Homo sapiens: one gene and its partners. The protein of the gene in region 1 interacts with the protein of each later gene in a pairwise test. Each region holds a gene or a part of one and is shown in the gene's direction. Other genes may lie near its edges. The genes, in order: TIMMDC1, ARL6IP6, ANKRD46, PIGF, PTPN1, AGR3 and SERP2.

The links.
Region 2: the proteins of TIMMDC1 (region 1) and ARL6IP6 interact in binary tests that used the Homo sapiens proteins (3 or more experiments, as listed by UniProt).
Region 3: the proteins of TIMMDC1 (region 1) and ANKRD46 interact in binary tests that used the Homo sapiens proteins (3 or more experiments, as listed by UniProt).
Region 4: the proteins of TIMMDC1 (region 1) and PIGF interact in binary tests that used the Homo sapiens proteins (3 or more experiments, as listed by UniProt).
Region 5: the proteins of TIMMDC1 (region 1) and PTPN1 interact in binary tests that used the Homo sapiens proteins (3 or more experiments, as listed by UniProt).
Region 6: the proteins of TIMMDC1 (region 1) and AGR3 interact in binary tests that used the Homo sapiens proteins (3 or more experiments, as listed by UniProt).
Region 7: the proteins of TIMMDC1 (region 1) and SERP2 interact in binary tests that used the Homo sapiens proteins (3 or more experiments, as listed by UniProt).

The regions. Positions count from the first base shown.
Region 1 is NC_000003.12:119,515,547-119,519,046, forward strand, and holds part of TIMMDC1 (complex I assembly factor TIMMDC1, mitochondrial isoform 1 precursor), read left to right. Parts: intron 1-1,658; coding exon 1,659-1,769; intron 1,770-3,500.
Region 2 is NC_000002.12:152,721,620-152,725,119, forward strand, and holds part of ARL6IP6 (ADP-ribosylation factor-like protein 6-interacting protein 6), read left to right. Parts: intron 1-3,500.
Region 3 is NC_000008.11:100,525,260-100,528,759, reverse strand, and holds part of ANKRD46 (ankyrin repeat domain-containing protein 46), read left to right. Parts: intron 1-756; coding exon 757-915; intron 916-3,500.
Region 4 is NC_000002.12:46,589,542-46,593,041, reverse strand, and holds part of PIGF (GPI ethanolamine phosphate transferase, stabilizing subunit), read left to right. Parts: intron 1-458; coding exon 459-567; intron 568-1,116; coding exon of another isoform or gene 1,117-1,134; exon of another isoform or gene 1,135-1,895; intron 1,896-3,500.
Region 5 is NC_000020.11:50,569,383-50,572,882, forward strand, and holds part of PTPN1 (tyrosine-protein phosphatase non-receptor type 1), read left to right. Parts: intron 1-3,500. UniProt on the Homo sapiens protein: Tyrosine-protein phosphatase which acts as a regulator of endoplasmic reticulum unfolded protein response. Mediates dephosphorylation of EIF2AK3/PERK; inactivating the protein kinase activity of EIF2AK3/PERK.
Region 6 is NC_000007.14:16,875,484-16,878,983, reverse strand, and holds part of AGR3 (anterior gradient protein 3 precursor), read left to right. Parts: intron 1-338; 5' UTR 339-365; coding exon 366-474; intron 475-3,500. UniProt on the Homo sapiens protein: Required for calcium-mediated regulation of ciliary beat frequency and mucociliary clearance in the airway. Might be involved in the regulation of intracellular calcium in tracheal epithelial cells.
Region 7 is NC_000013.11:44,376,824-44,380,323, forward strand, and holds part of SERP2 (stress-associated endoplasmic reticulum protein 2), read left to right. Parts: intron 1-2,817; coding exon 2,818-2,890; intron 2,891-3,500. UniProt on the Homo sapiens protein: Interacts with target proteins during their translocation into the lumen of the endoplasmic reticulum. Protects unfolded target proteins against degradation during ER stress. May facilitate glycosylation of target proteins after termination of ER stress.

The DNA.
Region 1 (3,500 bases):
AATATAATCATGGGCATAATATATTCACAGTTGAGGGATTAGGCAGGATATTTGGGGGGACCACTTTAGAATTCTGCCTACCACACTTGGTTAAGGTGTTATCTGTTCAGTGTCTCCATTGCAAAGATATCTTTTTCCCAATGTGATTAATTAGTAATCTGGAGGGTGAAACTGAATATTCTGCTCTCCAGCTATCTTTTCATCATGTGTTTTTAATGATCCATTGACGACCCATGCTGTAATCGGTTGGTTACTAGAAAGGTGGTTGTAAATGTTGATAAGCTAGTTCTGTCAGTTCTTCTGTTTTTATTAGTTGGTATTTGTCTGACTAGAAGAGTGCTACCTTCGTCCTCCACCTGTTCACCCCTTTGTCTACCTCCTTTGAAGGAGAAGGTAATGCTATAGATTTAATGATTTTTTTAAAAATTTGAATTAAATAAAATCAGCATGTCATAATCTACTGCTGCCATTGCTTTTGTTGTAGTGTTAATATACCAGTTTGGTTTGAAGGGAAAAGTTGTAGGAGTTAGCAACAAAAATATTTTTTATTGTGGTAATAAACACATAGCATAACATTCACCATCTTAATCATATTTTAAGTGTATAGTTCAAAAATGCTAAGTATATTCACATTGTGCATGAGATCTCTAGAACTTTTTTATCTTGAGAAATGAAACTATATGCATTAAAAACTAATTTCCCCTCCCCATACCCTCCAGCCCTCAGCAAATATATTTCTACTTTCTGTTTCTAAGATTTTGACTACTTTAGATACTTCATATGAGTGGAATCATACACTATTTGTCCTTTTGTGACTAGCTTATTTACTTAGCATAATAATGTCCTTGAAGTTTATCTATGTTGTAACCTGTTGAACGGATTGCCCTCTTTTTTAAGGCTGCATAATACTCCATTGTATGTGTATGTTACATTTTCTTTAACCATCTGTCAGTGAACATTTATGTTGCTTCCACTTAGCAAAAATAGTTATTAGTATGAGGTTACTTAAATTGTAGCTGGAGGAAATTTAAGGTGTATGAAGGTCAAATACTTCTAGTCTGAGAACACAAGAACCAAACTCTCTTCATCACTATAATAATTATTATCTAAATCAGTTTCTCAATGGGTTGCTATTGGCATTGTGGGTGAGACAGTTACGCCAGACTCTTGAACTTCAGGATATTTTGGTGGTCCCACCCCCAAAAGCCAGTAGCATCCCTCCCTCAACCAGAAATGCCCTCCACATTTCCTGTCTCCTAGAGGAGCTGGTGCCATTCTGAACTAGAAATTTCATTTTTGAGAAATCTTTGGTGTGGGGCTACTTACTAGAACTTGTCATAAATATATATATTTTTCCTCTTTGTTTTGATTTATTTCTCATTCCTCATAAAAACAGCCAGTTTCTAGATCTGTTGTTTTATTATATATCAGTTAACTTTAGGAGGTTGTAGTGATTGTTTTTGTCTGTTGTTCAGACCAAGGAAGAGATTACCTCAATGTTTTTCTTTATTTGACAAGGACACTTTAATTCTCAAATGTTCCTGTACCTAATAGTGAACAAGTGGCTCTGGTGTTGCTCACACCTTAGCAGAGAATCTCACATGTTGCAAGGTCTAATGACTCGTTTTTCCTAAGCTTTCCCTCTCCTTTCTTCTCAGCACTCCTGTAGGAGGCCTGCTGATGGCATTTCAGAAGTACTCTGGTGAGACTGTTCAGGAAAGAAAACAGAAGGATCGAAAGGCACTCCATGAGCTAAAACTGGAAGAGTGGTAAGGAACATGTTGAGCCCAGGGAATCTTGGCTCTCTTGCCCCAGGCCTTATATAGTGGTGCTCTTTTAAACTTATGTACTCTAAACTGCCACTCAATTCAAAGAAGAGTTTATTTTTACCAAGTCCTTCAACTCATACTGTACATTGTCTTTTAATCTATTTAAGGAGAATGGAAAAATGAAAGAGATTGATTTTAGTTTTAATTTAATGAAGATCTTTCTTTGGATATCTTTTTAAGTTAAAAGTGGTGTAAATCTTGCTTGCATGTTTTTTCTTTTCCTGTGTTCTTAACTGCATAGGAAATTACCTAAAGGGAATATTCACCAAGGAGTGAGCTTTACCTGGCTTACTTAAAAAGTGACATCCTTAGCCTAGCAGGGTGGCTCATGCCTGTAATCCCAGCACTTTGGGAGGCCAAGACAGGTGGATCACCTGAGGTCAGGAGTTCGAGACCAGCCTGGCCAACATGGCAAAACCCCATTTCTACTAAAAGTACAAAAATTAGCTGGGCATGGTGGCACGTGCCTGTAGTCCCAGCTACTCAAGGAGGCTGAGGCAGGAGAATCACTTGAACCTGGGTAGCGGAGGTTACAGTGAGCCGTGATTGTGCTCCAGCCTGGGCCACAGAGCAAGACTCGGTCTCAAAAAAGAAAAAAAGTGACTTTTTTTTTTTTTTTTGCATACATATGTAAGTAAGACACAGCATGTTAAGTCTCCACAAAAATTCTATTTCTTGCTGTAGATGCAGAGGAATTAGGTGGACAATGGTTGTTCATGCACTGAATGCCACTGAGGAACATGAAAACTTTCACCTATTGCATCTAATCATCTCCTGGGATGCAATTTGTGGGATAGGGCAATCAGACTGATAGCTGACTTTGCACAGATTCAATATGTAAGATGAATATAACAGGCTGCCATCTAGTGCTCCTGAGTACAAATGATTTTCACTAGTTCACCTTCCTGGGTACCTAAGACAGCATTGGCTGCTGCTGCTGTTGCTGTTTTGGTATTATAATTGGATAGATGAGAAATCATTTTTTTCCAGTGTTTTCATTTGAAACCTCCATTTCTGCTAACCACACACACACAGACACACACACGGAAATTCTTAAGAGCTGTAGGTCCATCATCCAAGGACTTAAGTGCTATATGAGAAGAAAAGCATTGAGGTTGCAGTGAGCTGAGATTGCGCCACTGCACTCCAGCCTGGGCCACAGAGCAATACTTCATCTCAAAAAAAAAAAAAAATTAAAAAAGTAAATGAAACATTAAAAACTGCAGAAGTTTGTCAGTGATTTAGAGATCAGTGATTTTGAGATGGAAAAGCTTAAGAATGGCTGGCTATGGCCATTCTAAGGTCATTCACCTGGAGTCTTCCACCACTGGCAACCCTGCCAATTCTAGTGGCTGAGCTGCCACGTGCACCCCCTGAAGACTGGCTCATCCAGGGTCCACTGCCACCATTTACCTCCCCCCATCAGTTTAACAGCAGATTTGCCAGCAGAAACCTTACAAGTCAGGAGAGAATGGGATGATACATTCCAAGTGCTAAAAGGAAAAAACAAACAAACAGACAAACAAAACCCAAAAAACTCCTGCCAAGAGTATTATACCTAGCAAAGCTATTTTTCCAAAATGAAGGAGAAATAGTCTTCTCAAGACAGGCAAACACTGAGGGAATTTATCACCACTAGACTGCCTTATAAGAAATGCTTAAAGAACTCCT
Region 2 (3,500 bases), on another chromosome or scaffold:
TTGATGTGATCACTTTAAATTAAATCATTTGATTTGATCACTGTAGATAGGTGGTTGAGACACTATGACACATGTCCTCCCCTCTCCCATTCTTTCCTAAACTCTCTAATCTACCACTTTATGGCTAATCACCCTTATGGTGACACTAAGTATAGTGTACCTTATTTCAGCAGAAGGGGAAACATGAACCCTTTATCTTCAAATTGCAAAGAAGTTGGTTTCTTAGATATTGCATGGAAACTTTTGTCTGTTCTTGTCAACATCTTGCATGAGAAAACATACTTTTTAGTTACTCATTTTATCAGTGTATGTTTTTACATTGTTTTATCTCTAGAAATAAGCCAAGATTATTAGGCTTCTCAGAGCTTTTATTGATCTGTCACCTCTTGATGCAGTGGAAACAGAATCTTATGAATTAGGCATGAATTCTAAACCTTTTGCTGTTTAAAAGTTGTCCTGATTTCTCATTTAGGAGTAGAATGACGGGCAGTTGTTATCTGAAGGAATGGCTTGCTCAATATCAAAAGGAATGTGATAGGTCTTTTGACATGGTCCTGCTTCCTTTTCCACTTAGGGTTAAATAATCCCATGTTGCTTTTAGGTATGCATGATAGATACTTAATATTTTTACAGCAAATAGGAAAATCATTAAGATTTTGCTAATGGCATGAATTTATTGTCAAGAGTCAGGAATGAGCAGAAAGTGTTGTATCTTTATGGTGAAAAAAACCCAACAGCTATGCCAAAACAAAGCTCATTATTTTGAACCAATGGTCAGATGAGCTCCAGTGGTCAGATGGAGAATAAAAATAGTTAATATCATTTAATGGGCTAATTCAATCAGTTTCCTGGGGGTTAATTTTAAAGAATAGTTATAGCAGATGTATGTATTATAACATATGGATAGAGAATAGTTGTCTCTACCAGAAGAGGATTCTTAAAAATCTGTTTCAGTGAAACAGGGCCAAGATGATTAAGCTCTTAATAAGATTGAGGTGATCGGCCACGCGCGGTGGCTCACACGTATAATCCCAACACTTTGGGAGGCCGAGGCGGGTGGATCACTTGAGGTCAGGAGTTCGAGACCAGCCTGAACAACATGGTGAAACCCCGCCTTTACTAAAAATACAAAAACAAAATTAGCTGGGCATGGTGGCACAGGCCTGTAATCCCACCTACTCGGGAGGCTGAGGCAGGAGAATCACTTGAACCGGGGAGGTGGAGGTTGCAGTGAGCCAAGATTGCGCCACTGCATTCCATCCTCAGCAACAGAGCAAGACTCCAACTCAAAACAAAACAAAAGATTGAGGTAATTGTGGCAACACCTGCCTTTTTTTCTAAGCTGCAATTCTCTACTGTTTTCAAGAAAAATACAAGTTAGCCTATTTACAGAATGTTTTGAATTGACTCCTGTCCTCTGGTTAAAACTCCTCTTGAGATAATTGATAGCTGAAAAGGTAGGATGGTTCTCTCAAACTTGACTTCCATCTAAATCAACGCTGAGTTGATTAACTTAGATATCAAGAAAAATTGCCTCATTAGTTTACCCCTGAGGAGATGCCTATGAAGTTACATCCTTTTTACAATTAATAAGACAGTTTTCACATGAAGAAACAATTTGAAATATTTAATAAGAAAATGTGTTGAAGTCATCCATTACGTTTGGGAAAAGTACCATGCAGCCTTTTATCAGATGATAACGATTTTATTATATTTCACTATTTATTTTGCCCTGTTTATTAGGAACCTCGTAGCCAAATGTAATAATGTTTGATTGTTTTGTATATTACTCTTTATTTCTTGGCATACTTATTATTGCCCACACATGCTATTATCTTAATATTTCCGTGACTCATATTTAAAATTTACTGCAAATTTCCTCATTCTTTGTTTGAAAGTAGGTTGGTTTTTAGAAAAAGCAACGTGAGCACAGTAACTGCTCTACCATGAAAGAGTTCTCTTTCTTTTTCTAGACAGACTGACAAAAATTTTGTACACTGCAGAATTTAATTGCAATTTAATCCTAGTCCAAGATTGGCATGGCAGTCAGTAAGAACAGATTATAGCAGCAATTCTCATTTTGGTATGGGTAACAATCACTTGGGGACTTGCTTTTTTAAAAGCACCTGTAGATTTTGTTTTGGCCATCATGATTTCGTGATACAGAACATTAGAAGTGTTAAAAAAAGTCCAAGAGAAAGGATGTGTGGGAGGTGGCCCATTCTCTTAAAAAGACACAAGTTGAGTAAAACTCAGTTTCATCCTTACAATGAAAATTGATTGAAACTCTGAACTTGAACTTTTTAGCCAGTGTGTGGACTTTATAATTTGAACCTATACTCTATTAAGAAAGTGTTACAGTGCTATCTGTGGCTGGGTGGGGTAGCTCTAATATTTCATCTAAAAAGTCACAAATATCCTATTCTATAGCACAATTTTTGTAAAATTGTCTTACCTATTTGTATTATTCAAGAAATGATGACTAAGGCCAAAAAAAAAAAAAAAAAAGAGAGAAAGCCAAAAAGGACTGGAAGGATATAATCAAAATGTTAGTTTATCTGGGTTTCCGAATTGATTGGTTGTATTTATTATTTTTATTTTCTACAATGTATAAGTGTAACTTGCAATAAGAAAAACTTTAAGGGAAAGCACAAATTTAAGTTTAGAGAATAATGTTTCAGTAATTAACAATAACACCATTTATTGCACTTTTACAATATGCCAAAAGCCATTAATTTGTGTGTTATTTCCTCTAGTATTCTCAACTACACTGTATCCATCAATGTTATTTTCTTCTAAACCAAAACTCAAGAAAGTATGTATTATAATTTTTATACCATAGATAGTCTAGGTAGTATAGCAAGGCAGAAAAAGAATGGGTTATCAGCAAGAATTAGCCATGTGCAGCTAAATTATTAGTCATGAAATTATTACAGGACTCTTCTTAACACATAAAAGCAGTAATAAGAACCAGACATTAGGACCCCTAAATCTCAATAAATTGAGTTGACATTGTGTGGTACTCTGTAGTCCAACTTTGGTGGTTGGGAGGGACGTTTCTTAGGCTAATGAAGTCAAAAGTTAGCTGGCATCAGAATCACCTGAAAGATAAATTTTGCTGCTCTTCACATGGTGCAGAATATCTGACTCAGTAGTGTGAGATGGAGCCCAAGAATTTTCATTTTTGACAAGTTTTGAGTTGATGCTCTGCATGCTGCTAGTTAGGGGGCTATATATACTTTGAACACCACTGGCCTAGTAGTTCCCAAACCTGACATAAAAAAAAAAGCAAAAAAACGAAGACCCTGGAGATTTTCTTTTTTTGCTTTTACGGAATCTTAGACCCTATAATTATCTACTGAATCGAAGTAACTTAATTGGCTGTATGTGTCAGTGTACACTGTACAATCAGGGCTCATTGGACCATTTTTCATTTCTGAATTATTTCGAGCAGTTCTGTTTGTAAGGATTGAAATTTCATGACTTATTCTTTCTTAGGG
Region 3 (3,500 bases), on another chromosome or scaffold:
ATGGGGTAGGAATTGACTGCAGGATTTAATGTGATTGGGGTTCTAACCTATTATTAGCGCTAAATAGCTGCGTGAACCGAAGCAGCTTATTTGACATTTTTTTCTTAGACTTTTTTAAAAAAAGTACTTGTCTCATAAAATGTAAATATCAAATAAGAATGAATCTAGAACTAGATTTATCCACTTTTTTGACTATATGTTCTCTTTTTTCTTTTCCCTGGAAGTAAAAAAAAAAAAAAAAAGAAAAACAAGGGTTAATTCAAAATTCAGCTACACTGGATGTTTGGCTCAGCTCTGGGTTTTACTTTTGAGTTAAACTGGACCCATCCTTTTTTTCCCCTTGGTGATTTGTTCTTCATAAACACTTTCTATAGTACAATTCAGAAAAAAATAGAGGCACACGGCTATTACTTCTACCATAATCTGCTGTTGAGGAGACATTCAGTGTGAGGATGGGGTCTGGAGGTGGGGGACGTGTTTGGTTAACAGGATAACGGCCTCTGTGATGAACTGTGCAAAAATCCCATCAGTCAACATCTGATTGCAGCCAGATGGTCAAGGCTCATGGTGGAAGAGTTGTAGTGAGCCAAATACTCCTTTAGTTCCCCACAGCCCTAGGGTAGGCCCTAATTGGGCCCATTCTTTCTTCACTGAGATCTATATAAGTGGGTACTAAAAATGGAACTGACAATGTAGTATAACTGCTATGATGGCTTCTTTATTTTTATAAACTTTTTTTTTTTTTTTTTTTTTTAGCAATCATCAAGGTGCTACCCCTTTAGTTCTGGCAAAGCGCAGAGGAGTAAATAAAGATGTCATCCGATTGCTGGAATCTTTGGAAGAACAGGAGGTGAAAGGATTTAACAGAGGAACCCACTCGAAACTGGAGACCATGCAAACAGCTGAGAGTGAAAGGTACTGGAGATACAACTTTTTTTTTCTCACTGTATTACTCATTCCTTGAACTCCTGGGCTCAAGCATTCTTCCTGCCTCAGCCTCCTGACTAGCTGGGACTATAGGCACATGTAGCCACACCCAGCAAGATAATACGATTTTTTAAGGGGAAAGTCACTTTAAGTATGTGGATTTATGGTTAACTTTGTGAACTTTAATATTCATTTGCTTTTAAGTGCAACTTGAACTTTATATAGGACCTTATGACTGCAGATTACAATTGAGAAGCTATTAACAGAAAGTACTACATGTCATGTGCGCATAATGTTCTGTTAGCCACCTGCTGTATTGACAGTACAAAGGAGAAATAGTAACAAATGAATCTGAGGGGAGGAAGCCGGAGCTTGATGATTTTAAGTACAGGTCACAAAAAGAATGGAATTTCAAAAAAAAGAGAAGTATAAGTAAAGCCAAGAACTTGGGCAATTTTAGAAAAGACTGAAAGGTAGTTTCAAGGGTAGGGAAGTGGAATGCTGAGAAACAAGAAAACAAGAGAGGGAAAGCAAGATAGTATTTAACACATGCACAGTTCAGTAATGTGAAAGTGAAAGTGACTTTCATATGAGTTGGAGCTAATGAAATTTGGATTCCTGTGAGTAATCGAAGCTAAGATGTGGTAACTGACAGGGTCTTGAATAGCTCATCATTTCTCATCTAGAAGCAATGGAGAATGCAGTTCAGAGAGCTCCAAAAAGGTGGCGCACCATCTTTTCTCCTGATGTCACTGGGCTCAACAGGTAAAGTTAATAGGCCAGACTTAGTTCTAGTAGCATATTATCTGGTTGACCACCATGCAGTTTCAGCCTTCCACATTATACGTGTGAAGGAAAAAGGATGCTGAGCTTCCATAGCCTCTTCCCAGTATTCTCGGTAGGTTGTAAATAGAATAAGCAAGGGCCCACATCAGCTGTTTACCTAGTAGCTGATGGACTAGGACTTGGATTTAGAATCACATAATCCACTTAGACCATTGGGATCATTGTTTCTGTGAGTTCTAAATGAAATCCTCTCTGTTTTTCATAGCTTACCCTTCATTTGATTCCTTTGTACCCATTTTTGCTTTCCTCCTCTCGTGTGCCAGATGATGTGCTCTTTGGGGACCATTAATTCCACTCTCAAGCTTAGGTCTATTTTGTTCAGATACTTTCAAGCACTTTAATACAGTCCTAAAGAAATCCAAGAGCTTTACTTCTGGAACAGTGCATACTCCTCTTGAGTGATCACTGAAAGCTGACAAATAGATAATCAAGAAGTCAGAGATGTATTTGCAAGCCCTTGTTTTTCTCTCCTCTGTACTTTGGATTGACAGAATGGCATAAGCACTTTAACAATATTGAGTTAACTATTATTTGTTAAAGATTTTTTCCTCTAAGATAACTTGAAATTTATTTTTATCTTTTTATGAAATAACATTAAGTACTTTAAGCTTCTTTACCATGAAAAACAACCAAGAATGTGTTCTTGTTTGGTATATTTTTAGGATCTTTATTTTGTTAATAGCCAGTTTCTTGGCACCCTTTTATTAGAAATATACTTTTAGCATTAGTTTGCCTCAGTTGTGATTACTTACTAAGAAGTGATAAGTACAAAATAATATTCCATTGGATGAGCAGTGGAAGTACTCCTGCTTCCTTCACATACCTGCCATTTCACTGCAGCATGAGAGTTTGTATTAATTGTAACACTGTATAAAGCTCGTTTTTCAAAAATTGAGTTATTAACACTTTTATTACCTAGTTTTCCTATCTTACTCCTACCCCTCAGTGTCATGGTAGAAATTCAGTGGTTGAAGCTTAAATCAGAAAGTTGAAAGGTAATGTCATTAGGAAAATGCAAATGAGGACCATAGTGAAATGCCACTTCACACCCACTAGGATAGCTGCAATTAAAAAGATAGATAATAACAAGTGCTCTGGAGGATGTGGAGAAATTGGAACCCTCATACACTGCTGATGGGAATGGAAAGTAGAGCAGCTTCTTTGGAAAAGTCTGGCAGTCCTTCAAAAAGCTACACGTAGAGTTACCATCTGACCAGCAGTGCCACTTCTAGGAATATACCAAAGAAAATTGAAACATATGTCCACACAAAACTTATATATGAATGTTCATAGCAGCATTATTCATAATAGCCAAAACATTGATACCACCCAGATATCCATCAGCTGATGAAGGAATAAACATCATCTGTTCATCCAATGGAATATTACTAATATTATTATATTATACTGATACATGCTACAGCATGGATAAATTTTGAAAACATGCTACATTGGAGAAGCCAGGCACAAAAGGCCACATATTACATGATTCTGTTTATGTGAAATGTCCAGAATAAGCAAATCCATAGAGACAGAAAGTAGATGAGAAAGTAGACTAGAAGCTGGGAGAAGGGGCAATGGGAGTGACTGCTAATAGGTACAGAGTTTCTTATAGAGGTGCTGAAAGTGTACTGGAATTAGAAGAGATGGTTGTACAATTTGGGGAATATATGAAAAGCCACTGAATTGTACAGTTTCAAAAGGTAAATATTATGGGATGTGAATTA
Region 4 (3,500 bases), on another chromosome or scaffold:
ATGATGCATCTGAGTTTTGTTTTGAAGAAATATACATATGTACATGTGTATTTATGCAAATGTACATATATCCTTCAAAACAAAATTATGTGTGTATTTGTGCCTGTATAAAATATTTCTGGAAGAATATGTAATAATTTAGCATAATAGCAGTTGCCTGTGGGGAAAGGAACCAGGAGTTGATGATAGGGGTGGAAGACTTAGCTGTTTCTACAAATGCTCTTTAACATGGTTTGACTCCTAGTGCGTCTGTATATTACCTTTCCAATGGAAAACATTTACATCTTCTTACCAATTAACTATTAATAGTTCATGGTAAATATGTATATGTCATTTTGAGATTTTCATTTTAAATTAGCAGGAAATATATGTATACTGATAATGTGTGCTAGTGCTTGTTGGATTCTCCAGCAGCTCATGTATATACCACCAACGATGTACCAATTTGTGTTTCACAGAGTTACATCCATATGGGAGAATAGTCTCCAGATCACTACAATTTCTAGCTTTGTAGGAGCATGGCTTGGAGCACTTCCTATTCCACTGGATTGGGAAAGACCATGGCAGGTTGGTTTCAGTTACTTAAAGCAACAAAATAAATGTTTGTACAATGATAGTAAAACAGATGAAGCAAACTAGTGTGTATATGTAAATTGTTTTGTTGTTCAATTAAGTAGGGATACCACTTCTATCAGTCACTGTAATCTGGGCAGCTTCTTAATGGGGACTGTCCAGTGCCACAGGTGTCTAGGTAGCCCTGGTTTTATCTTCTAGCACTATTTTTTGCACATGTGTAGATGAATAAACAAGCTTATTTTGTGATTGTATATAGGCGGTTTGTTTATTGTTTTTAAAAAAGACAGGTTCTCACTCTCTTGCCCAGGCTGTCCTCTAATGCTTGGGCCTAAACGATCTTCCTGCTTCAGCCTCCCAAGTGGCTGGGACTACAGGTGTGTGCCACCGAGCCCAGCCAGTATAGGAATTTTTAAAAACTAGGTTAATAGCTGCAGAAATTTCCTATTTTCAACTTTGATATTTATTGCCCTTGTGGTCTTATATTCATATTTTCTGAACTTGATTGATGGCCAAATTGAATGTTCCTCTTGAAATTTTTAGAAGCAGATAGCAAGGTAATTTTTGCAGCAGCGGCCTGTGTTATCAAGAAAGCTCACAAACATCAGATTTTTCGTCTTGTATCACAATAAGATAAAGCTGATATGCTAGGTAAAGCACTGTGAGGTAAGTGCTCTTTTTATACCCATTTTACAGATGAGGAAACTGACACCTAGAGGGTATGTAACATTCCCAAGGTCACTGAACTTACAGTGATGACTGTATCTTTATCTTAATATTAATGACTTTGTAGTATGCCATTATATACTTTATAACTTATTTAACAAATTCACTATTGATCATTTAGATTATTGCCAGTATTTTGTGATAATAAACACTGCTGTGATAAAATCTTTGAATCTATAGCTTCTTGAATTTTTCTAATTAGGTTCACAGAGTAATTACTCCCAAAAAGAATTATGGTATTAAAAAATAAATGTGCTTTCTTTTTCCAACATGAAGATAATTTTTTTCTGATCACGAAGATAATGTATATTTATTTAGAAAATTAAAGCAATATTAGTAATTCTAAGGAAGAAAGTAAAAATTACTTTCCTCCCCAACCACCCAGAGGAAACCTCCATTTGCTTTTGGTGATAATTTTTGCAGCTGTCTCTCTCCATGCCTGTAACTATAATATTCATGTTGTTTTTAATCTGCTTTTTCCCCTCAGCAGTATATTATGGAGCTCATTCTATGTCAATGAAAACTTACATATATGTAATATTCGATTATTTGTGTAAAATATTGTACCAGTTTTTTATTAAAGAACATTTAGGTCATTTCCTATTTTACTATTATTATTTTATTATCAAATATGGTCATTATCATACTTATACATCTTTGCATATTTGTCCAATTTTCTCTGTAGGGTAGAGTCCTACCTAATGAATTGATGAATTAAATCTTTGATACATACCTCATTTGCCAAATGTGGGATCCAGATTGTGTGCCTTGCACATAACTGCCTACATTTAGCTCTATTCTTTGTGCTTTCAGTTAGATGTCGTGTCTCCCCGAAAGTCAAATTGTTGTTTCATGTTTAATAGGTCTGATAGGTTTGCCCTTCCCTGTTTTAACTCTTCATCACTATATTAGAGAAATCCTTGGAGGTTTGGTGTGTGTATCGTCACAGATTCCCATCTCAAGTTTTTGGTGCTAGTAAAGGTTTCTTAAGTTGACATCTTATAGAAGTCATCCATACTTGATGTCATTCAACAGAGTGTCAGTGATTTCTAAATTGGAGGACAATCAAAATCATTGAAAAGTATACACAGAAAATTGAAACTGTGTAGATTCATTGCTATCAAGTAATGCAATTAAATCTAAATAGAAAGTATTGATAAATAAAGTACTATGGGACATTAGCTTTAATGAGTTGGTAAGATATAATAATCATTTTGTATATGATGCAATACATTAGAGTGTAAAGGTTTGATATATTACACATAATTTAAGTCTTTTCTGTTTACAAGACAGTGCAGTAGTAGAAACTGAACTAAGAGGAATGAATATATGTGCTTTATAAAATATGTGTTTAGGTTTGCTTAGAAAATATATATCTTAATTATTTACAGTTCAGTCACCCATTTTGGGATTGTTCAGGCTTTTAGCTGATGACCCATTTTTCTCCCTCAGTGCTTGTTAACAATAAGGATGAACTAGATCCAAATTGATGGTATTACTTTTTAAATTAATGTAAAGTTTCCATTTGAATTACTGACTTTTTAAAAAGATTTTCTAGGTAGCTGGAAATTAATTTAATTTTAAATCTAATTTAAATACATAACAAGTGTTGGTTTCCATTAAGAGTGTTTCATTCAGCTGGAATATTACTGGCCATGTAATTATCTTTACTATTGGGTTGTTTTTAGAATATTCCAAGTTAATGACCCACGTATTCACTGTAAACCTTTTAAATTATGAAATGTATTGTTGAGGGAATGATAGAATTGATGTATAATTAAAAATCTTTTATTCATATAGCACTCATCTGCTCCTTGCCCTTTTAGCAGTTATTTACTAATAAACTAAAGAAATGAGGTTTTTTTTTCACTTTTTATTTCCAGCAAACAAGGTTGTTTGTTTTTTTGTTATTGTTATTTTTTAATAATTCTAACTCCACAGAACAGCATCTCCCAGAGAAGCAATAAATCAGATAAGGGAATATGGCATTTTCTAAAAGTGGAGATGTTGTTAGAGCAAAATTTCATGAGAAGACAATACAGTATACACTTTATTATCTAAAATAGAACATGTATTAAGAGATTCTTGTTCTGTGTTCCTTGTAGCCCAATACCGATTTGATCTGCTTGTGGTAAAGCAAGCTTTTCTGGATTGTGTTCTGGTTTTATTTATATTCCAGTCAGAGAAACAGGAATATCTGG
Region 5 (3,500 bases), on another chromosome or scaffold:
ACTTGCAGGCACCCCTGGACGGCTGCCCCCAGCTCCCCAACTGCCTGCATTCTCCCCTGCCCTCCTCACTCTGTTGGAATAGCTGAGAATAGCCGATTTCTGGGCAGCCGGCCTCCTGTGTAGACTGTCCTGTGTAGACTGTCCTGTGTAGATTGTCTGTGTAGACTGTCCTGTGTAGATTGTCTGTGTAGACTGTCCTGTGTAGACTGTCCATGTAAACTGTCCTGTGTAGATTGTCTGTGTAGACTGTCCTGTGTAGACTGTCCTGTGTAGATTGTCTGTGTAGACTGTCTCTGTAGACCGTCGTGTATAGACTGTCCTGTGTAGACTGTCTCTGTAGACCGTCGTGTATAGACTGTCCTGTGTAGACTGTCTCTGTAGACCGTCCTGTGTAGATTGTCTGTGTAGACCATCCTGTGTAGACCATCCCATTTAGACCATCTGCCTGTGCAGGCGCAGGCCAGTGTTCAGCAGGGCCACAGGCTCCTCGGCCTCCCTGCCCTCGCTGCTCCCCAACACTGCCAACCCTGCTGCGGGGTCCAGGAGGAGATGGGCTGAGGATCGTGGAGACCAGCAGGAGCGTGTGGCCCAGGAGCAGGGAACTGGGTGTCCTTGGGCCTTGCCAGGTCCAGGCTCAGCTAGGACACGGCTCTCACAGCTGTCCTGGTTGCCTCCGGCCACAGAAGAAGGTGAGGGCTCCAGAGAGGCCACCTTTCCAAAAAAAGCACAGTCATGGCCCTAGAATGTAAAAAATCCAAGTGTTAAGAAGGAACACATCAAAGGAAACTTCAGCAGTGAAAACTTGAAGCATTAACCACGAAGCCTCTGCCTCCACCACACACAAAGAAACGGCTTTAGTTACTCGCAGAAAGTCTTCCTCTTAGGACAGCGCGTGTTTAAAATCATAGGGGTTTGGTTTGTTTTGTTTTGGGGTTGGGGTTTTTTGGGGGTTTTTTACCCTTGCCTACTTTTTAAAAAATGAAAGTGTTTATTTGCCCAACAATAACAGACAGGGAGCTTGCCTAAGTGTTCTGTTGATGATATAATGTATCTTGTCTTAGAAAAAAACTTTTTCAGTGAAAGGTGGTTTTTAAATTTTTTCTTCCCTCCTTAGTAGCTTGATTAGTAAAATGTGAAGTTACAAATGTGAAGCAAACCCCCACCCTTCACCACTAGTCAGCAATTTTGAGTAAAGAAACAAAGCATCAGGTGCTCACAGCACACACTGTCTTAGAGGGAAGGGGAAGCCTGGTGGCCTGTGGAAGCCTTCAGCATAGCTCCATCTGCAGGCTTCTGACCCTCAGCACTACTGACACTTGGGCTGGATCATTGTCTGCTAGGGATCCGGGCAGGGAGTGGCTGTGCTGGGCGCTGTAGGAAGTTTAGCAGCATCTCTGGCCTCTATCCACCAGATGCCAGTAGCACCCCCTCCCCAGATGTGGCAGTCAGATGTGTTTCTGTCTAGACTCCAGACTTTGTCCAACGTCCCCTGGTAGGCCAAATTGCCCCCGGTTGAGAACCACCGCTCTAGATGGTATTGAGGGTTGGGAATTTTAAATCAAGACATTTATTCAGAAATTACCAGATATAGTAGCATTTGCTTCTTATTTATTTCTTTGTTGCTAAGTGTTTGGCAAAACCTCTTTGCTGTGAGCACAAGGTTTGCTTTAGCAATTGTTGTCACATTACAGCAAGGAGTGGTGTCCAGCGCTGTAGTTATGTATTTGAGCAGTGTCCAGTGCTGTAGTTATGTGTTCCAGCCTCACCAGGCCCTGTGCTTCATTGTCTCCCACTCAAGACTGACCACAAATGGCCCACAGATCCACTGTGACAACCTTTCCCTTTGGGTTACTGTGGTGGCATCGAGAACATGGCTGGTTGGCTTTGCTGTAGTTTACTGTGATAACTGTGCCAGCAGTCCCTGCTTTCCTTTGTTAAGTATCCCATTCCACTGGAGGATTACTTGGGCGTGCAGATTGGCATGAAAAGCAATGTATGGTTTGAGATTGTTAAAGTTTCTTTGGGATCAACATTTTCAATTCTGTATCAGCATTATCCCTCCCAGAGGGCTGGCTGGGAGAAATCATGAGAAGTTACAGTATCTTATTTGCTCAGCTAATCTAATTATAAATGATCCACACAGCTTGTGGTAAAACCAGCTTTTGGGGAGTTTTCATTTAATGCATACTTGTCTTCTGATTTCCTTCCTTCACCAAATAGTGTAGGATGCTCCCTCTTATTTTTGGCAAACATGCCTGTTATCTTTTGGGACCCTGGGCTTCCTGGAAACCAGTTATGCAGAAGATGATTGTGTGTGTTAGACTGGGGTCATCCAGATGGCTAGAGTTCTCACTGGTTCTGTTTAAGGATTGACTTTAGACACCTCAGTGTAGGCTGCACCATGGCGTAAGGGTTGGGATTGTTGTTTAGAAGGGGGAAGTAAGCAAGGTGAGTTTAATTGGCCATTGCAGAATCTCACCCGTATCTCCCTCCTGAAATCCTCACTAAAGCTGCCGTTTGCTTTCAGGTGCTTTCATGCACAAGACACTGCATTTTGTATCACAGGGTCCATATAATTCATTTTTCTCTCGTACTTAGTTCTCTGTGTTAAGAATTACTTACTTAGTTCTCTGTGTTAATAATTTTTGGCGAAACCAAATTACCCGTCACAGGGTTACTGTAGATGTCTTTCATAGGTTTTCCAAACACCACTTGCCCACTTGTTTGGGAAGGCCCCAAGGACTGTTTAACATCTGCCTTCATGGTGGAAACAGCAACTATGAGAGATGCTAGCATGTTGGCACTGCCATGTTCCTCTGGTACCAGCCCAAGATAGGACTCAATTTGAGGCCTGGTGAAGTACTGTGTTCTAATAAAAATCCATCTACTTTTCATGGCCGTATATATCAATGTAATAGGGTAACTGGAAATGTGATCTTGTGCCTTTTAAAAATTTTGTGTGTTTAAAACAAAAATTTCTATTGGAAATGACAGAGCATAGCTTGTTGCTGTAGACACCTGAGAGTCCTTAAAAATAAATATTGGGTTATTGACACTTAGTTGCATGACAGAATTCCTCACTTGTACAGTTCCAAAGTCTTAGTCTTTACCCAGATTACAGAGGGTTATTAAGCATTAGGTTTGGTTTTGAAAGTGAGTGCTTGCTGTCTGGAGGTGAGCTTTAAGACTCGTCTGCCCTGCTTATGAGATGAGGAAGGGTGGCCTCTTCCTCCTGCATTTCTGTTCTTCGCTTCCTTCTCTGTCTGCTCACTCTGTGGAATGCCCACCCCAGCACGGGTGGGGTGGAACCTGTCAGATCAGTCTCTTGTTTCTGGGGTCTTGAGGCATTATAAGATCTAGTTGTTAGAAGTGTGGGATTAATTCATCTTTTCACATTCTTCTAAGTTCCTGCTTTTAGCTGCCACACCCACTTTGGCTAAGTGGGGGTCTTGCCATGTAATTAGCGCCTCCATGCCAAGTGGCAGAATTGCTTCAATGGT
Region 6 (3,500 bases), on another chromosome or scaffold:
CAACATGATCTTATTTGAGTTTCGTCTTGTTGGTGTGAACACTACAGGGCGGTTCAGAAGCAGGCTTCGTGTGCCCTGATCCAGCTCTTTTTTAATTATACAGCACCATGCCCAGGAGGCTCAGAACATGACTTCTCACCAACTGAGCATGTACTGAGTTGATTAAGTATTTTAAAAATAAAATGTGAATGAAAGTTCTATGTGGTTGGTTATACCATGTCAAACCAAAAAAGCTGAACAGTCTGTCATCACAGTATTGGTCCAACTCTTAGCAAATATCTTCTAATAATAGCTTGAAGTAATTCACTGGATTCTGAGAATTCCTTTCTGTCATCTAGCTTCTTCTGAGAGAGTCTCTAGAAGACATGATGCTACACTCAGCTTTGGGTCTCTGCCTCTTACTCGTCACAGTTTCTTCCAACCTTGCCATTGCAATAAAAAAGGAAAAGAGGCCTCCTCAGACACTCTCAAGAGGTGCTGTAATCTCATTTTATTTTCTAAACTCAGTCATTTGGATTGCTTTTTAAAATATCTGGTGTCTTCACTCATAGTCTAATTATAAAGCAAATTCAACTAACTGAATGATTTTTGTTGTGTGTGACTTCAAAATGGATTTTTTAAAACAGAAGGAATCAGTTTATTTTAGGCAGTGAATCAAATCAACTAGCAAACAATAACATAAATTTGCATTATCTTTTGCCAAAATAATGGAGAATTGGCTCGCTGTCTATAACTTTGGTAACCAGAGTCCTAGAAAATAATGATTGATTGCTGCGTCATATTGGTGTCCTAATAGCAATTTAAGATTCCTCAAAATTTGCTCAAATTCCCAGTCCTCTATTTCCCAGTCCTCCAAAAAAAAAAAAATTGGAATAATTTTATATAAGCCTTCCCAGAAAATTATACTATACCCCAAACTCTGAGAATTCGGGGTAACTAAGTCTTTGCTATATTGACTCTGGAAGACAGTGGTTTTAGACATAATCAAGGATTGCCGGTGGCTACATGTTTAGAAACATTTCTTTTTGTACTTACTGTTTTACTTGGCCCAAGAAACAAATATATATTCATCTGTAAAGAAACATTTTATTAAAAAAAATTCTCTCTTTTTTTTTTTTTTTGAGACGGAGTCTTGCTCTGTCACCCAGGCTGGAGTGTAGTGGCACGATCTTGGCTCACTGCAAGCTCTGCCTCCCGGGTTCACGCCATTCTCCTGCCTCAGCCTCCCAAGTAGCTGGGACTACAGGCGCCCGCCACCATGCCCGGCTAATTTTTTGTAGTTTTAGTAGAGACGGGGTTTCACCGTGTTAGCCAGGATGGTCTCGATCTCCTGACCTTGTGATCCGCCCGCCTCGGCCTCCCAAAGTGCTGGGATTACAGGCGTGAGCCACCGCGCCCGGCCAAGAAAATATTCTCAAAGTTAGTTTCTATATCTCTAAGTAACAGAAGTAGGAACAGAATTATTTGTCCCCATATAGCTATTCAAAATCAGCAGTATTACCACAAAGTACTTGACCATTTGTTTGCTCCATTCATATTACCACTGCAAATAGTAGTCAAGTGCCTTGGAGTAATACTGCTAGTTTTGAATAACCAAGTGGGAACAAATAATTCTGTTCCTACCTCTGATATATATATAAAATATATATAATTATAACATACAAATTATATATTATATATACTATATATTATATATAATATATATCATAGTATACATTTGTGTTATATTATAATAAATTATATATAAATATATGCTATAATTATAAATATATATTATATAATTTCAAATTCTAAAACACTGACTTGCTTCCCAAGTACATTCATTTCTTAACAGATGTATTGAGTGCCAGCCAAGTGCTCATCAATGTTTACCTAAGCTAATTAACTCTACTTCAGTTTAACAAACACACAATCTATATATACAGAAAGTCAACATATTTTTGCAAAAGAAAGGAATGAAAAAGTTGAAATATTTTCCTAAACATAACTCTATCTCTCTGTATAAGCATAACTGTTGTAAAACAATGAGCTCAGTAGCCCTAAAGTGACAAAGACTAAACTAGTTATTGCCCTTAAAGATTTTCCATGTCTGCATTAAGCAGCACTGTGATAACTATACGTCAAGGCATCAACATTCTGTGTGCTCACTTCTAAATATTTATTTAAAACTCTTGTTGAATGTTTTGAAAAAATATATTACATTTGTATGCCCTATTTTAAACAACTTAAAGGTTCTATTATTTCAATTGATAAGAAACTAATTTAACACAGAAGATGACTGATATTAGCTGAGAACACCATTATTGAGAATTGGTTTATATTTGGCAAAGTCTTTTACCATCTATTGCTACATGGGAGATAATGGAGAGAATGAGGCTCAGAATGAATGAAGATTAAAGGTAGGGGTGAGTGGGAGAAGTCTGGATACAGTATAAAGAGTGGCATATGGAGCCCCTTAGAGCACAGGGCAGCACTAGTTAAGTAGAGAAGGCAGTAAGGAGAAAAGGAAGATTAATTAGAAAAAGGTAGAAGAAGGTTCAGGGAGAAAAAAATACACACACATAGAATGATCCAAAAAAAATCCAATTTCCTTTGAATCAGAATTGCTGAGTACCTAGTCCAGTGATTGGCGGATAGTAAATATTTAATAAATATATGTTAGATAAATGAATAAAATCTCAAAAGACAAGAAAATATAGCCAGAGATAGAGATAGGGCTAGAATTAGAGTAATGAGCAGAAGCCATGAAGTGCATTTAAACTGTGTAACAGCTTTGACCTATTGTGATTATAACAGAGTAAATAAAAAATCATTATAATGCAATATGGCTTTTCTACAGAGCTATGGACAATTTGTTGAGAATAGGGATTATATTGCTCTATGTTTGTATTCCCACTGCTTTGTGGAGTAAGTTATGCAGCAGATGTTCCTTTACTGTTTGTGGAACTAAATTGAGCAGGAGCAGAGAATAGAAATTTTCCCCACTGCTAATGCTCCATCATTGAATGATATTTGCAACAGAAGAGGGAAAATTCAGCAGAGGCCTCGTCTCACTTGCTGTTTTAGAATAACTTTTACTTAATGCAAAATGTGATGTATAGATATTGCATGTGTTCAACCAAAGTTGGAAAGAGAATCTTTCAGGATTATTACAGAGAGCAAGAGTTCCTGTTAAGATGTGGCATTAAACTAACAAGAGATGTTTTTCAATGTTAAGATTTTAAATCAGGCAAAAAAAAACAAAAAACAAAAATGTTGCTGGTGAGTATATAAAATGATGCATCTACTTTAGAAAATAACCCGGCAGCTCCTCAAAAAGCTAAATACAGAGTGACCATTTGATCAGCAGTTCCACTCCTAGGTATATACCCAAGATAAATGAAAATATATACCACTGAAAAACTTGTATATGTATGTTCATAGCATCATTATTCATAAAAGACAAAAAGTGGAAACAACCCAAATATCATTAACTGATGAACAGATAAATAAAATATGGT
Region 7 (3,500 bases), on another chromosome or scaffold:
GTAGTAACTTCTCCAGAATGAAGGGGGAATTTAAATTTCAGAGTTCTGAGTTACCCTACGGGTATCTTAATCACAGGGAAAGCCATTCCCTGACATTTTTGGAGCCTCAAGAAGTAGCAAACTCATGTTTGGAGTAAACCATGTCATTTGCAGAATCACTACTAGTTTTCCCCACCTTTTCCAGCCATAGAGTAAGGTTTATGTGAATTGTCCCAATGGGATTGTGCTGGGCACCCCTTCTAAAAAGTAGTCACCCAAAGCTGTCAAAAAAAAGATATATGGGTACTATGATCAGCCAAAGTCCCCAAATCATGTTGATTCCATGGAGAATGTCATCCAAAAGGTTTTTGTGTTATATGGTCCAAGCTCTACATGCTGATCATCTGTTTTTTCTGCATATGAAAAATAAAGGACTCTATTTGGTATCTGTCCTGGGCAAGTAATTCATTACAGGCTTCTGAATTCACTTATTAGCTTTGCTGGAAATAGAGATAAAATGAATTTTTTTATATAGCATCAGTGGCACAACAGCAACAGAACTGGTTTCTGGGCAACTGTGACAAGTTCCTGGGAAGGTGGTGGAAGAGGGTGGGAAGGGCGAATGTCACACTTTGTTCAGGTAGCTTTATGAATGTTGTTTACCGGATCTGAACTTGGCCTGGCCTTAAGGGCCAAAAAATGGCACAGTTATCTTATGCAATTATTTAAGACTGATCTTGTCCTCGTCTGATTAAGAGCAGCCACCGATTCCTTTGCAGTGTGACTTGCCGGCATGTAAGTGGTGGTAGATACAGGCTTAGTCAAGGACAGAGAAGTGAATGTCTTAATCCTTAGTCAAAGTCTACCTGCCGTTGACACTTTAATCCATATTTCTCATGTAGGAGAGATACAGGGATAATCCTACACCAATTAGGAATTATTACTAAAAAGACAATATCCTTCCTAGAACCTGTGTTTACTCTGCCTAACCTAAGAAATCTTATTTAATGAAACTTGTATGTTTATTTGTTCTTTGATGAACGTTTATTATCTCCTATGTTTAAGTTCTGTGGCAGGCATTTCTATATATTACTACATGAACAAGACATAGTCCCTGCCCTTGTGGGGTCTGTAGTCTCATAGAGAGACAGATATTAAACACATTAATTATCACAAGAATAAATATAGACCTACAAACTGTGACACATGCTATCAAGAAAAAGTATGTGGCCATACAAGTGACGAGTGGACCCAAGTGAGGTAAAAGAGAAGGGCTCTTTGGTAAGCTGAAAACTAAAGAACTGTTGCCTTATCTATGATAAAATAAATTCCTTTTTTAGATGAGAAGCCAGTTTACATTTACATTAGCCTAGAACTTAATTTTACATATAAATACAACACATCATAGATTTTACAGTTTTAATATATGATAAATTTTCTAGGAAAGCAACTACAGTGAAAATCAAAGGAAGATTATCCTTTTTTAAAGAAGTTTTTGTTAGAAACATTACTAAAACTTGTTCAACATTTCAAAAACTTACATCCTTGATGATAGCACCACTCGTTTTTTTTGAAACACTATTACATACCTTCAGTCTGAATGTCAAGCTGTGGTATTTGTATGGATATGAACATACCTTTTAGCCCATATTTTACAATGTTGAATACAATGTTTAAATGTCAACAACATTTAATTGAAATCTGGAATTGGGTTTTATGAGATCAACCACAAATCAATACTTGTGAACATTCCACTCTACCAACACGTTTTTCTTTGTGTGTTTTGCATGTGAATTCTTTAACGTGTGTTGAATGCAGCCTATTTTTCAAGCTAATCAGAAAATAATTAGTGAGTTCTTTGTTGTTGTTTTTTTTTTCACTCTCCCATTCTATTTGAGAAATTCACTTCTTTTCTGATGCATCTCTCAGAAAATATTTGTTGTTCTGACTGATTTGGGTTTAAGGACCAAGCCCTACCTGCACATAGACCTGGAGGTGTTGTGGAGGGAAGATCTTATTATGTCTGTGCTTTTGGTTTGAAAAAGCAGGAGGTCTGTAGGGCTTCATTCATGCAGTTTTGACAGTCCCCTTCTGCTTCCCAGAGAATTCAGAGACTTCTCCCAAGTGCAAGCTTTATTAAGGCTTAGGAGCTTTATTACAAAATGCTGCTTCACTCATAACCATTCACAATTGCTGTGGTGCTTCTGTTGTTGCAAGGATTTCCACTGTACTGACTTCCTAATTTGGGGTTATGTAAAAGGTTTTCAGAAAATGTCTGTGCTCTCTGATCCTGCTTGGAATTCACAGATGCAAAAACTAAATATTGAATCTGTTAATGGAAAATACTCAGGCTTTATAATGAGGCAGACCTAAATTTGAATCCCAGCTCTTGCTCAAGTTAACAAACTTTGAGCCTCAGTTTCTCAACTCCAAAATGGAAATAATAATACTTGCCAGAAATAATGAATGCAGACTGCCTAGTGTAGTGCCTGGCACAGAGCATTACTCAGCAGATGGAAAGTTATTATTAATATCATTTTGGTTCCTAAATCGCCATATTGGTTTATGTATTCATACCATATCTGTCCCCAGAATATTTAAGACCACCAAGTTCACTGAGTTACAGGGATGTTAATAAGGTTATGGATGAATTTTTACAAACCTGTCTCAATCCTTTTAATGGACTTCATTCATCTATATCTGTCCACTGAGGGATTGAAACCAAGTCTGTCTCATTCGCAGTAGAATCCCCAGCACCTAGCACAATGCCTAGTGATACTCAAATAATTGTTTATTGAGTCAATGAACCTAATCTTACTTTTTCCCATTCCCTTTTAGAGGCCGCAAGAGGAGAAATATCCTGTGGGACCATGGCTGTTGGCACTGTTTGTTTTTGTTGTCTGTGGCTCAGGTATGGGTGTTTCACTGAACTTATATCCCATGTTCTCCACTGGCCTTTGAAAAACACACGTTTTCTTCACAAAGCAAATAGATGAAAAACATACTGGTATGGGATTCAAGTTTATCACTGCCTTAAGCCTTAATCTTAATGGGTTTTGATTTAGTTTCTATTCCAAATATAGGTAGAGACACAATTAATACACTATCAAATCCTAATCATAAAATGATTACACTGAGTAGTTAAAGTGGCTGTATACACTGTAGAGTTCAGTAAAGTCTTTTTGTGCAGACATAGCCTTAAAAGGGCATTAGAACAGAAGGTGAAACACCTGTGTGCCTGTGATAAATCCACATTCCGAGAAAGGGAGAGGCCTTATGCCTTATGAGAAAGTTCTGCAGAGCTCCTAGATACAACTTCCTAGATACAACTGAGCCTTTGACCCAAGCCTTAAGGTATGGGTCACCTGATACTGTAAGGTGGCAAGTTGAGAGCTTTACTTACACACATGCAGATACACACATACACACAAATGCAGGGAAGATGAGCAGAAGCATCGTGCCATTGTTTCTAGTTACATGCTGAACTAGCCTTGACATGGTTCCTGATCCCCATATGTTGG